3 linked regions of the Homo sapiens genome follow. The protein of the gene in region 2 interacts with the protein of the main gene of each other region in a biochemical or structural test. Each region holds a gene or a part of one and is shown on either strand. Other genes may lie near its edges. The genes, in order: MAP3K11, IKBKB and ROCK1.

Region 1 (3,748 bases), on a different chromosome or scaffold from region 2:
AGCTAGAGGTCATGAAGCCAGGGAGGGCTAGGCCAGAATTCCAGCCCTGGCCTTAGCCTTGACTGCCAAGGAGGGCTTCCCTCTCTGAGATATCTGTTCTGGAGGAGCTGCCCATGACGACGGGAGGGGAGGACAGAGCACCAACTCCACGAACATGAATTTAGGGGAGGAGAAGATGAGGAGCACGAGCTTCCAGAGGACTTCCTTGAGGTGGGAGCCATGGCTGGGCAGGATGCTTATGGCCCACCTGAGAGATACCAATTTCTTAACTTGTCCAAACCGCAGCTGCAGGCTGGGGTCAAGGACTTCTGAAGCTGGCGCAGGAAGACTCTGCTGGGTGCCTGGGGCTCTGTTTGGGGGCTAGCTTGAGCCCATGGGCACCCCTGGTCAGCTGGGACCCCCTAGGGTGGGAGCTCCTACCTGCAGTAGACCCTAAGCTAGGCTCAGTGGAAGGTTGGGAGCAGGTGTGTACCAGAGCCATGCCACCCCCAACCATGCCCCCAGAAACTCACTGTTGTTGGACTTGAGATCACGGTGGATGACGGGCACCAGGGCCTCGCAGTGCAGGTAGTGCATCCCACGGGCAATCTGCACAGCCCAGTTGACCAGCACATGGGGAGGCACGCGCCGCCCGGCCAGAGCTCGGCTGAGGGGCCCACCGGCTGCATACTCCATCACCAGGCACAGGTTGGGCTCCTCCAGGCACACAGCCTTGAGGGCAATGATGTTGGGGTGTGCCAGCATGGCGAAGAGCCGGGCCTCCTGGCGAACGCTCTCGGCTGTCACACTGATGTCCTCATCGGGGTCCTGGCGAGCTGCCTTCACAGCCACCAGCTCACCTCGCCAGCTGCCCCTGTACACCTTGCCAAAGCCTCCAATGCCGATCACCTCCTCCAGCCGCAGCTCCTGGAAGCTGGCCACCTCGCAGGGGGGCGGGCCGCCACCCCGAGACACATAGTTGGACGGGAAGATGCCCACCTGGCCACCCACCTGGCCCGCCCACCAGCCCTCGTCTCCTGAGATGGCTGCGTCCCGGGACAGCACCTCCACACGGTCACCCTTCCTCAGGGCCAGCTCATCCTGCCCACTGGGCTCGTAGTCGAACAGGGCTGTCCACACCGGGTTGGCATAACCCGCTGCCTTTGGAGACCCCTCAGGCCGGCCTCCTCCACCGCCCCCACCACCCCCGCTGCCACTGCCATTCCATGACCCTAGAGGGCTCTTGAGGAAGAGGCTCTTCAAGGGCTCCATGGCCGGGAGCCGGCGCTGGGATGTGTGGAGGACCTTCTCTGGGTGCCCGTGGTCCCCACCCCCGCTGGCTGCCAAGGCCCTAGTCCCGGAACCTGGGCATCCGGGCCCTGGCCCTCAGCCCCAGACCCACGCCTCTCTGGGGAGCCAGGAGTGTTGTCTCCCGGCCCCCCGCATCTCGGGCTTCTGGAGGAGGGCACCCAGGGCAGTGTGGTCAGGCCGGGGGGGTGGGGCCCCGGGGCCTCCGGCGCCTCACCATGGCTAGCTTGGAGGGACCCGAGCTTCCCTCGGTTCTGGAGCAGTCCTGGGAGCCTGGCTCCGGCCCCCGCCAAGTGTAAGGTGGGGCCTTCAGGGGCAGCGCCTCAACTCCGGTTGGGTCTTTTTGCGCAGGGGGTGGAGGGAGCGTCCGCAGTTGGGCCGAGACTGCCTGTTCCTGGCCCCGTCTCCTTTGGCCCCGACGGCTCCGACCCCGCTCCCTTCTTCCTCCTCCCTTTGTACTTTGGCCCCGGGGGCGGGAGGCAGAGGTGGAGGGTGGAGTTTCACTTTTTTCCGCTCTTCTCCCTCCTGCAGGAAACAGCATCAGATGACGCGGGCGGCCTGCACCGCTCCCCTCCCAGAGGCTCCAGGCGGGGAGTTCCCGGGTAGGCGGGCCAGGAGAGGCAGAGAGGGAAAGGGCAGAACCAGATCCCCCATCACAGCAGGCTTTTGAGATCTAGAAAGAAAAGCCCCCAGCTGCGTGCTCTGCTGCCTAGGGTGGAGGTTGGTCTCTGCTAAGGATGGGCCATCTCTGCCCTCTGCATCCGCATCGGCGGCAGCAAAACGGGGTTACAGAACCACACTTGGGAAGGGGGTGAACCCGAGTCTGGTCTTGGCTGCGAAGTTGTGGGACTGTGCGATCCATCGATTCTGAGCCTCATTATTTTCTTTCTTTTTTCTTCTTTTGAGACGGAGTCTTGCTCTGTCGCCCAGGCTGGTATGCAATGGCGCAGTCTAAGCTCACTGCAACCTCCGCCTCCCGGGTTCAAGAGATTCTCCTGCCTCAGCCTCCCGAGTAGCTGGGACTACCGGCGCGTGGCACCACGGCCGGCTAATTTTTGTATTTTTAGTGGAGACGGGTTTCACCATGTTGGCCATGCTGGTCTCAAACCCCTGACCTCGTGATCCTCCCGCCTCGGCCTCCCAAAGTGTTGGGATTACAGGCGTGAGCCACCGCGCCCGGCCATTCTTTTCATATATGATATGAGGACGAGAAAGCTCTGCCTCGTAGAGCTAGTTGGATGGGGTGGGGAAGACTGGAGGACAGACGGAACTGGCTGCACCTCAAGCTCTTGGAGTGGATTGCCTAAGGCTCTCTTCTTCTCCTCACCTGGGAAACAATCCGCTTCTTCATATCCCTTCCCCATTGGCAGAAACCTGAGACTTGTCCAGAACTTTGCCCAGGATTGGATTCAGAATAGCTGAGTCGCCCTCACAACTTCTGGATAGGGCTGCCCCAATTGCTTTGAGCCTGTCACTTTAAGAAAGACGACGCTATCCTATTTCGACTATTCCTGCCTGTTACGGAAGGTTGTTCTCTACACCCTAGGTCTGAGCTCTGACCCGGAAGTAGACGCCGCTGGGAGCGAAATCGGTCGTGACGTACGAGGTCCAGCATTAAAGGGGGCGGGCCGAGAGGGGCGTGCTTCGGTAGTGCAGAACTCTCGCTGCTACTAGGGGAGTCCACGCCTCCACCTTTTCCCCGCCTCCTGTAACTCATTGGAAGAGCTGTGCGCCAATTACTTTGCCGTTACCCAATGGCTACTCAACTGTCTCTTTGGTTCCGCCCAGTCGTCTACCCTGGGTTGGCAACGCCTGGGTCTACGCATGCGCCCAAACGCTTTTACGCTCGAACTTGCTTTAGTCCTGGAGTCTGCGCACGCCCAAAGGGCACCCCTCGCGTCCTACCGCGCCATCACCTTTCTGCGCTTGCGCATTCATGCCGTCAAGTTTTCCTTTTCCGGGTCCCAATTGGAATCGTTGGGCGCATGCGCCACTGCAGGCTGGCGGTTCGCGGCTCCTTCTTCCGGCCTCCTCCTTAGGCCGGCACCAGCAGAAGCCGGGCGAGCGCGGAGCCCCAAGCAAGTGACCTGCGACCCCGAAAGTGGACCCCAGATCCTGGGGTTCTCCCTGGTCCGGAGACTAGGGAGCTGTCGCCTGCACCCCGGGAGCACCCACCCCACGACCACCTCTGGATGCCGCCGACGGGTACCCGGCCCGTGCCCCGCGCCTGCCTGCCGGCTCGGCCCCTCGGAGCAATTCTGGGCCAGGAGTGGGGACCCGGACCCCGCCCCTGATGCAGCCCCACCCCCGCGTCCGGGCCTTGCACCACTGACTGTCCCGGCCGGCCCCGCCCCCTGCTCGCACCCTCGCGCGGCCGAGCCCCCCTCCCCCGCTGGGGGAGGCCATGGCGTGAGCGTGAGGCCGGGCCCCGGGGCCCTCAGGCGCCAGACGGGGCATGGGC
Region 2 (3,748 bases):
GACCGGGCCAGCCTCTTCTCAGTAAATGCCCTCAGTTCTCAAATCTGAGCACCACTGACAGGAGTGAGGGTGAACTGGAACAAGGGCGAGCCCTGTGGTAGTCACAGGCCAGGCCTAGGTGCTAAGGGCAGCTGTATGGGAAGGGATTAGGTGATCTAAGAACTCATTCACTGTATTCCACTCAGCTGAGCCTGTGCTCACCACCCCAGCTGAACACATAGAGTGGGTGGGTAAAGACCACAATGTCAAGCTTGTGGGGCAGTCAACACCACGTCTGAGCCGGGTGGCCACTGAGGAGGCCACAAAGAGCTCTGGGGAAACTATAGGCTGGACCAGGCTTGGCAGCAGAGGCCAGCTCCCAGTGCCTCTTCCCAGCCACATCCACAACCAACTGACCACTGGTTTCCATTTAGAGTCGAGAGGCGAGGCTCTTAAAGCAAATGGAAAACAAAAAGTCGACTTCCAAGAAGCGCTAGTCCCAGAGGCTAGGGGTGGAGGTAGGAAGGCAAACATTATTTTCCTTATCAGATTCCTGCAACTTGAGCAACTAACAATGTAATCCATTTAAACTTGCCTCAATCTGCAACAACTTTTTTGCTCAATTTTGTTTCAAATCAAACAGCATTCCCAGAGAATCAAAGCACAGGCAAGGAAATGCAAATACACACAAATATGCAGAGTGTGCTCCTTTCCTCCCAGGCCACTTCCCGGCACGCCCACCTGAGGCTTTCCCAGTCCCAGGAGGTCACTTACCCTCTGTTCTCCTTGCTGCAGGACGATGTTTTCTGGCTTTAGATCCCGATGGATGATTCTGTTTTCATGAAGGTATCTAAGCGCAGAGGCTGAGGAAGAGGGGGGTGAGTTTTTCTTAGGCCTAAAAAATGCTTTTCATGACAGAATCTCCTATCCTGCAAAAGATAAATGCCGCATGCCCCTGAAACATACTCTGACTTGTAGCGCAATACCTCAGGGTGGAGGGCAGGGGCCCTGCTACGTGAGGCTTAAACTTCCACAGGAATCTGGCTTACTTGCGCAAAGCACTCTTTGCCTTGCATCCATGAGGTCACCAACTGCAGCCTAGAGCAGTGCTTCTCAAACTATACTACCTGGACCAGCAGCAAACAAGCTTGTTCAAAATGTGAAATTCTCGGGCTCCACCTGAGACCTCTGGATTCAAGTCTCTGGGGATGACCCCACGATCTGTGTTAACAAACTCTCCAGGTGATGCTGACGCCAATAAAGTTTTGAGAAGGGAAGTTTCTTTGGTCTAGAGGCTCAAAAATCTAAATTCTATAGGGTGGGCAAGGAGGAAGGGCCCTTGGGGACAGAGTCCTATGGTCATATGATCGACAGTCCCAAGAGGTCAGAACTGGCTTCCAGGAAGCAGCGGGGAGGCAGAAGAGGAGAACAGGGACACCTCCCACACATACAGACAGCCCTACACAGACTTACTACATGCCCAGTTCTCTGGGAGGTTCTGTGAGGGACATAAAATAAGGGGCATGATCCCCAACTTTAAAGAGCTCAGAATCTAGTTGGAAGAAAGCAGACTGCACAACACTGGCTACGGAAGCATTTGATACCAAGAGCTTCTGCTGTGAGGAGGCAACGTGATGATGTCACATGAGGAGGCACCCGCCTGCAGCTCAGATGGCAAGAAGGACATGATTTTACCCTCAAGAGAGGGTGAATAACTTTGACAGACATCTAGTTCACTGCACTATAAAAGAAAGAAATGAAATAAATAGTACTGAAATGAGATAAAATTATTTTTATTTGGAGATGCTATGACTAGAGATGGAGATAGATTTGGAGATGTAGCCTAGAGAGCTCAACAGACTAAACACTGGATAAAATTTAGCCAGTTGTCTGGAAACGAACAAGAATACACAAGTCAATAGCTTTTCTCTATGTTAGCTATATCCAGTTGCAGTGGAAAGGAAAAAAAATCCCATTCACATTAGCAACAAAAACTCCAAAACACCATGGGATACATGTAGCAAAAAGAGCAGTGTATGCAGGAAAGTCACATGGTATAAATAGAACAGTGCAAATAACATTAAAAGGTTTTCAAAGTTTATGGCAAAAGATACTATAAACAAAGCCAAAAGATAAGAGAGGTGGGGAAACAATATCTACAACACATACACCAAAGAGTAAAGATACCTAATAGATAAAAAGCTCTTATAAATCAATAAGAAAGCAATGCAGAAGAAAAATGGGGCTGGGCGCGGTGGCTCACGCCTGTAATCCCAACACTTTGGGAGGCCAACGTGGGCGAATCACCTGAGGTCAGGAGTTCAAGACCAGCTTGGCCAACATGGTGAGACCCTGTATCTACTAAAAATACAAAAAAATTAGCTGGGTGTGGTGGCATGCCCCTGTAATCCCAGCTACTCGGGAGGCTGAGGCAGGAGAATTGCTTGAACCCAGGAGGCAGAGGTTGCAGTGAGCCGAGATCATGGCCACTGCACTCCAACCTGGGTGACAGAGTAAGACTCTACCTAAAAAAAAAAAGAAAAAGAAAAAGAAAAATGGGCAAAGAATGTCAAGTGGTGAGAAAGCACAGAAGAAGAGATACAAATGGTATCACTTCACTGGTAGCCCAAGGATACTTACTGCATATCTTGAATGAAATAATTAGAAACAGACAGTCATTAGGAAATGTTAGAACAAATTATGGTAGTGCCACATTAGAACAGGCAACTCTTGGGTCTATATTTTCTGACTCAGAGGGATAGTTAATGGTATGACCTGTTTCTTGTTTAAAACTTAAAAAGTCAAAAGCAGTAACATTCAGAGGTTTAACAATGAACCCTCTGTATGCCGTCGCCGCCACCACCATTCTCATTCTCTCTGTTTCTCTCTCATTCTCTCTCTCATTCTCTCTCCTCTCTCTCTCTCTCTCATTCTCTCTCTCTCTCTCTCTCTCTCTCATTCTCTCTCTCTCTCTCTCTCTCTCTCTCTCCCTCTCGGCAAGCCGGGGAGGGGAAGACCCCTGAGGCCCAGGCAGCGATCCTATCTGCTGTCATGGGTACGGCCCTCTGTGCAGGGTAACGGAAAAGCCTTCCACAGAAACTGAGTAAGCAAACATTCTCTGCAAAGACTCTAAGCTGAACATTTGCTGAAAACATATTTAAGAGTCAAACTGAGAGCTGAACAACTGACTTCCACCTTATTAAAGGAGTTCCAGCTCAGAACATTAAGCTATACATGATGAGTATCTCTTATCCAAAATGCTTGGGATCAGTTTTTTTTTTTTTGGATTTTGGAATACTGGCATATTCCTAATGAACCCAAGCTTAAACACAAAATTCATTTGTTTCATATATACCTTATATGAAACAACTGAATTTTTATAAATGATTTTATAGTCTGATGGTAATTTTATACAATAGTCTTAATAATTTTGTGCATGGAACAATGTGTTAAGTACTTAAGTGTGGAATTTTCCACTTCTGGCATCATGTCAGTGTACAAAAACCTTCAGATTTTACAGCCCTTTAGATTTTGGACTTTGGGATTAGGGATGCTCTATCTGTGGTGCCAGATCTCTCCTTGCATCTGCTCTTTTAAGTCCAGCCTTCGACCATGTGGTTCCAACATATCATACTGTTCCTTACTTTTCATTTCCTTCCTAAGTGACAGAGTAGATCAGCTTAGGTCCAATTAATGTCCAGATGAGGTGAAAGACTCGCTGCTTTCCATGTGCCTAAAAAATTATATTTCATCTTGTTCTCAATTGTGT
Region 3 (3,748 bases), on a different chromosome or scaffold from region 2:
CCTCTCTGGCATGTTTTTAAGCCACCCCCTGCCCTAGAGTGTCGAAGATGCCATGTTAAGTGCCACAGAGATCACTTAGATAAGAAAGAGGACTTAATTTGTCCATGTAAAGGTAAGGCATGGTAATTATTGTTACAACTTATAACAAATTTAATTTTAAGTCTCAATGAACTAACTTATGTGTAGTGATTTCTATACCAAGTTGAAAAGAGATTATAGAAAGTATTATTTTGACACTGGTGGGGCAATATGCAGCTATTTACAGATTTAGCTTTTAAAAATGTTTTTATTTATTTTTATTGATTGACTGATTGATTGAGATGGATTCTCACTCTGTCTCGCCCAGGCTGGAGTGCAGTGGCGTGATCTCAGCTCACTGCAGCCTCTGCCTCCCAGGTTCAAGTGATTCTCCTATCTCAGCCTCCTGAGTAGCTGGGACTATAGGCGTGTGCCACCACACCCGGCTAATTTTGTATTTTTAGTAGAGATGGAGTTTCACCATGTTGTCCAGGCTGGTTTCGAACTCCTGACATCAGGTGATCCACCCACCTCGGCCTCCCAAAGTGCTGGGATTACAGGTGTGAGCCATTGCACGCCCGGCCAACAGTGTTTTTAAAGAGAATCACCCCCTTGTAAACAAACAAAAACAAACAAACATGCTGCTAAGAAATTATTCCAAGTTGGAGAGAAGAGCAACAGGTGAGTTCCACTCTATTCCTCCCTTGAGTTTTTCCTCTTCTTTTTGTCTGGCATTCACTGCCTGGATCAGCATGCATGCTGTATCACAGAATATCTTCTAGTTTTACAGAGGTAGCTTGAGGGAAAGAATACAGACCATAGCTATTTTCAGATAAGAAGCTTATGTTCTTTAAATACATTTATTTGTTTTACATTTTGTTATATTTCTGATTTTACTTTATTAGTTTGACTAATTTTTTTTTTTAATTTCAGCCTTATTTAACTTAAGGAGAATGAGATATTGTTCATGCTTAATTAAGCATATTAAAACTTTTAAAACCTTAAGAACTTGAAAAACTATGCATTTGATAGGTTGGATTTTAAAAAACTATATGGCTTTAATTATGCTTTTTTTTTCCTCCTTAACATAGTAAGTTATGATGTAACATCAGCAAGAGATATGCTGCTGTTAGCATGTTCTCAGGATGAACAAAAAAAATGGGTAACTCATTTAGTAAAGAAAATCCCTAAGAATCCACCATCTGGTTTTGTTCGTGCTTCCCCTCGAACGCTTTCTACAAGATCCACTGCAAATCAGTCTTTCCGGAAAGTGGTCAAAAATACATCTGGAAAAACTAGGTAAGGATTTGAAATGCTAACGTTTTTAACAATGTGAAAATGATTGGATAACAGCTATTAAAATCAGAAATCTAATTGTGCTTTTCACCACAGAGGGCATCATTTTTAGGTATTTGTATGTGAATTGCAGTGACTTTATAAATTAGTTTAACTTATTCTTGTTAGAGTTTAATAATAATAATACATGCAATATTATATTTATTTAGTTCTGTGTCTAATTTTATTGTCATAAGTTGCTGTACATGGCATAGTTTTAGCCCTTAATGCTTTAACCAACTTAATTTTTTTAATGCAGAAATTCATATAAAACTTTTCATCATCTTTTCTGTTTTTTAACTGTGTTGGCATAGTTTTTCTACAAAAACCAAAATTGTTTTTCCCTTTTTTGTTAACTTCCCATACTATCCCAACATACAAAATTATTTGGTATTATCAGTGACTATGTTTTTTTAATTATTATACTTTAAGTTCTGGGATATATGTGCAGAACATGCAGGTTTGTTACATGGGTATACACGTGCCATGGTGGTTTGCTGCACCCATCAACCCATCATCTACATTAGGTATTTCTCCTAATGCTATCCCTGCCCTAGCCCCCCATCCCTCGACAGGCCCTGGTGCGTGACGTTCCCCTCCCTGTGTCCATGTTTTCTCATTGTTCAACTCCCACTTACGAGTGAGAACCTGTGGTGTTTGGTTTTCTATTCCTGTGTTAGTTTGCTGAGAATGATGGTTTCCAGCTTCATCCATGTCCCTTCAAAGGATGTGAACTCATGACCCCCTTTTTTTTTTTGTTTTTTGAGACAGAGTCTCACTCTGTCACCCAGGCTGGAGTGCAGTGGTGGCGCTATCTCAGCTCACTGCAACCTCCACCTCCCAAGTTCAAGCAATTCTCCAGCCTCAGCCTCCCAAGTAGCGGGGATTACAGACGCATGCCACGCCTGGCTAATTTTTGTATTTTTAGTAGAGAGAGGGTTTCATCATGTTGGCCAGGCTGATCTCAAACTCCTGACCTCAAATGATCTGCATGCCCCAGCCTCCCAAAGTGCTGGGATTACAGGCGTGAGCCACCATGCCTGGCTGTTTAACTATTTTTGATGGACTTTTTTCCAAAAATATGTTTTATGCCATGATAAACAATTATAAGGCATAACCATTCATTCATTCATTCATTCATTCATTCATTCATTCATTTTGAGACAGAGTCTCGCTCTGTCACCCAGGCCAGAGTGCAGTGGCGCAATCTCAGCTCACTGCAACCTCTGCCTCCCAGGTTCAAGCTATTCTCCCACCTCAGCCTCCTGAGTAGCTGGAATTACAGGCACATGCCACCACGGCCTGCTAATTTTTGTATTTTTAGTAGAGATGGAGTTTAACATGTTGGCCAGGCTGGTCTTGAACTCCTGACCTCAGGTGATGCACCTTCCTGGGCCTCCCAAAGTGCTGCGATTACAGGCATGAGCCACCGCACCAGGCAGTTAACTCTTTCTTGGAGAGAAATAATGAAATCTCATCTCATTAAGTTCTCATTTTACACATTAGTAAATAAGGCTCAGAGAAATTAAGCAGTTTGCTCAATCACACAGCCAATGGATTGGAAACCATTTCTGTCCAATTCTAAAGCCTATGTTGTCCAATTCCAAAGCCTCTATTCTACCACATACCACCTTCCCTAGAGTGTACTCCCTAGATTAATAGGGCCACTCGAATTAGAAGCTGAGACCTAACACTGATTTGCCTCGCTGCCAATGTCACCTACATCTTCCAAGCAGGCTTAAAGCCATCTTGAATTCATCCCTTTTGTTCATGCCCTATTGTCAGTAACCAGGCCTAATTCTTTGAAATGACTTATATCCTTTCCTTTCTCAGCCACCATACTATGCCAGGTATTATCACCTTACTGCTAACTTAATTCTGTAGAATGCTATGTCAGCCTTCTCCTGAGCATAGGTTGTAAACTGGATCTAAAATGATTTGAAATGAGATTATAGCTGAGTAAGAAAATGTGTAGAAACAAAGAGGAGAGAATACTAAGTATATTTTTCCTATTCCTTGTTTTCCAAATTTTGTGTAATTGTTAATTATTTTATGTAAAGATAATGTATATTTACCTTTCCTCCTAATGTTTGTTTCTTGTATTTTTAAACTGAGTGCATTTCTTAAATTAGTTTTTTCCCCCTCCCTCAACAGTTAACCATGTGACTGAGTGCCCTGTGGAATCGTGTGGGATGCTACCTGATAAACCAGGCTTCTTTAACCATGCAGAGCAGACAGGCTGTTTCTTTGACACAAATATCACAGGCTTCAGGGTTAAGATTGCTGTTTTTCTGTCCTTGCTTTGGCACAACACACTGAGGGTTTTTTTTATTGCGGGTTTGCCTACAGGTAGATTAGATTAATTATTACTATGTAATGCAAGTACAGTTGGGGG

What was found.
Region 1: of the proteins of IKBKB (region 2) and MAP3K11, one has a biochemical effect on the other in vitro, tested with the Homo sapiens proteins (one study listed by BioGRID).
Region 3: of the proteins of IKBKB (region 2) and ROCK1, one has a biochemical effect on the other in vitro, tested with the Homo sapiens proteins (one study listed by BioGRID).

Annotation. Positions count from the first base shown.
Region 1 is NC_000011.10:65,612,506-65,616,253, forward strand, and holds the start of MAP3K11 (mitogen-activated protein kinase kinase kinase 11), read right to left. Parts: upstream 1,717-3,748; 5' UTR 1,252-1,716; coding exon 513-1,251; intron 1-512. UniProt on the Homo sapiens protein: Activates the JUN N-terminal pathway. Required for serum-stimulated cell proliferation and for mitogen and cytokine activation of MAPK14 (p38), MAPK3 (ERK) and MAPK8 (JNK1) through phosphorylation and activation of MAP2K4/MKK4 and MAP2K7/MKK7.
Region 2 is NC_000008.11:42,302,281-42,306,028, reverse strand, and holds part of IKBKB (inhibitor of nuclear factor kappa-B kinase subunit beta), read right to left. Parts: intron 843-3,748; coding exon 754-842; intron 1-753.
Region 3 is NC_000018.10:20,951,147-20,954,894, reverse strand, and holds part of ROCK1 (rho-associated protein kinase 1), read left to right. Parts: coding exon 1-112; intron 113-1,109; coding exon 1,110-1,317; intron 1,318-3,507; coding exon 3,508-3,511; 3' UTR 3,512-3,748. UniProt on the Homo sapiens protein: Protein kinase which is a key regulator of the actin cytoskeleton and cell polarity.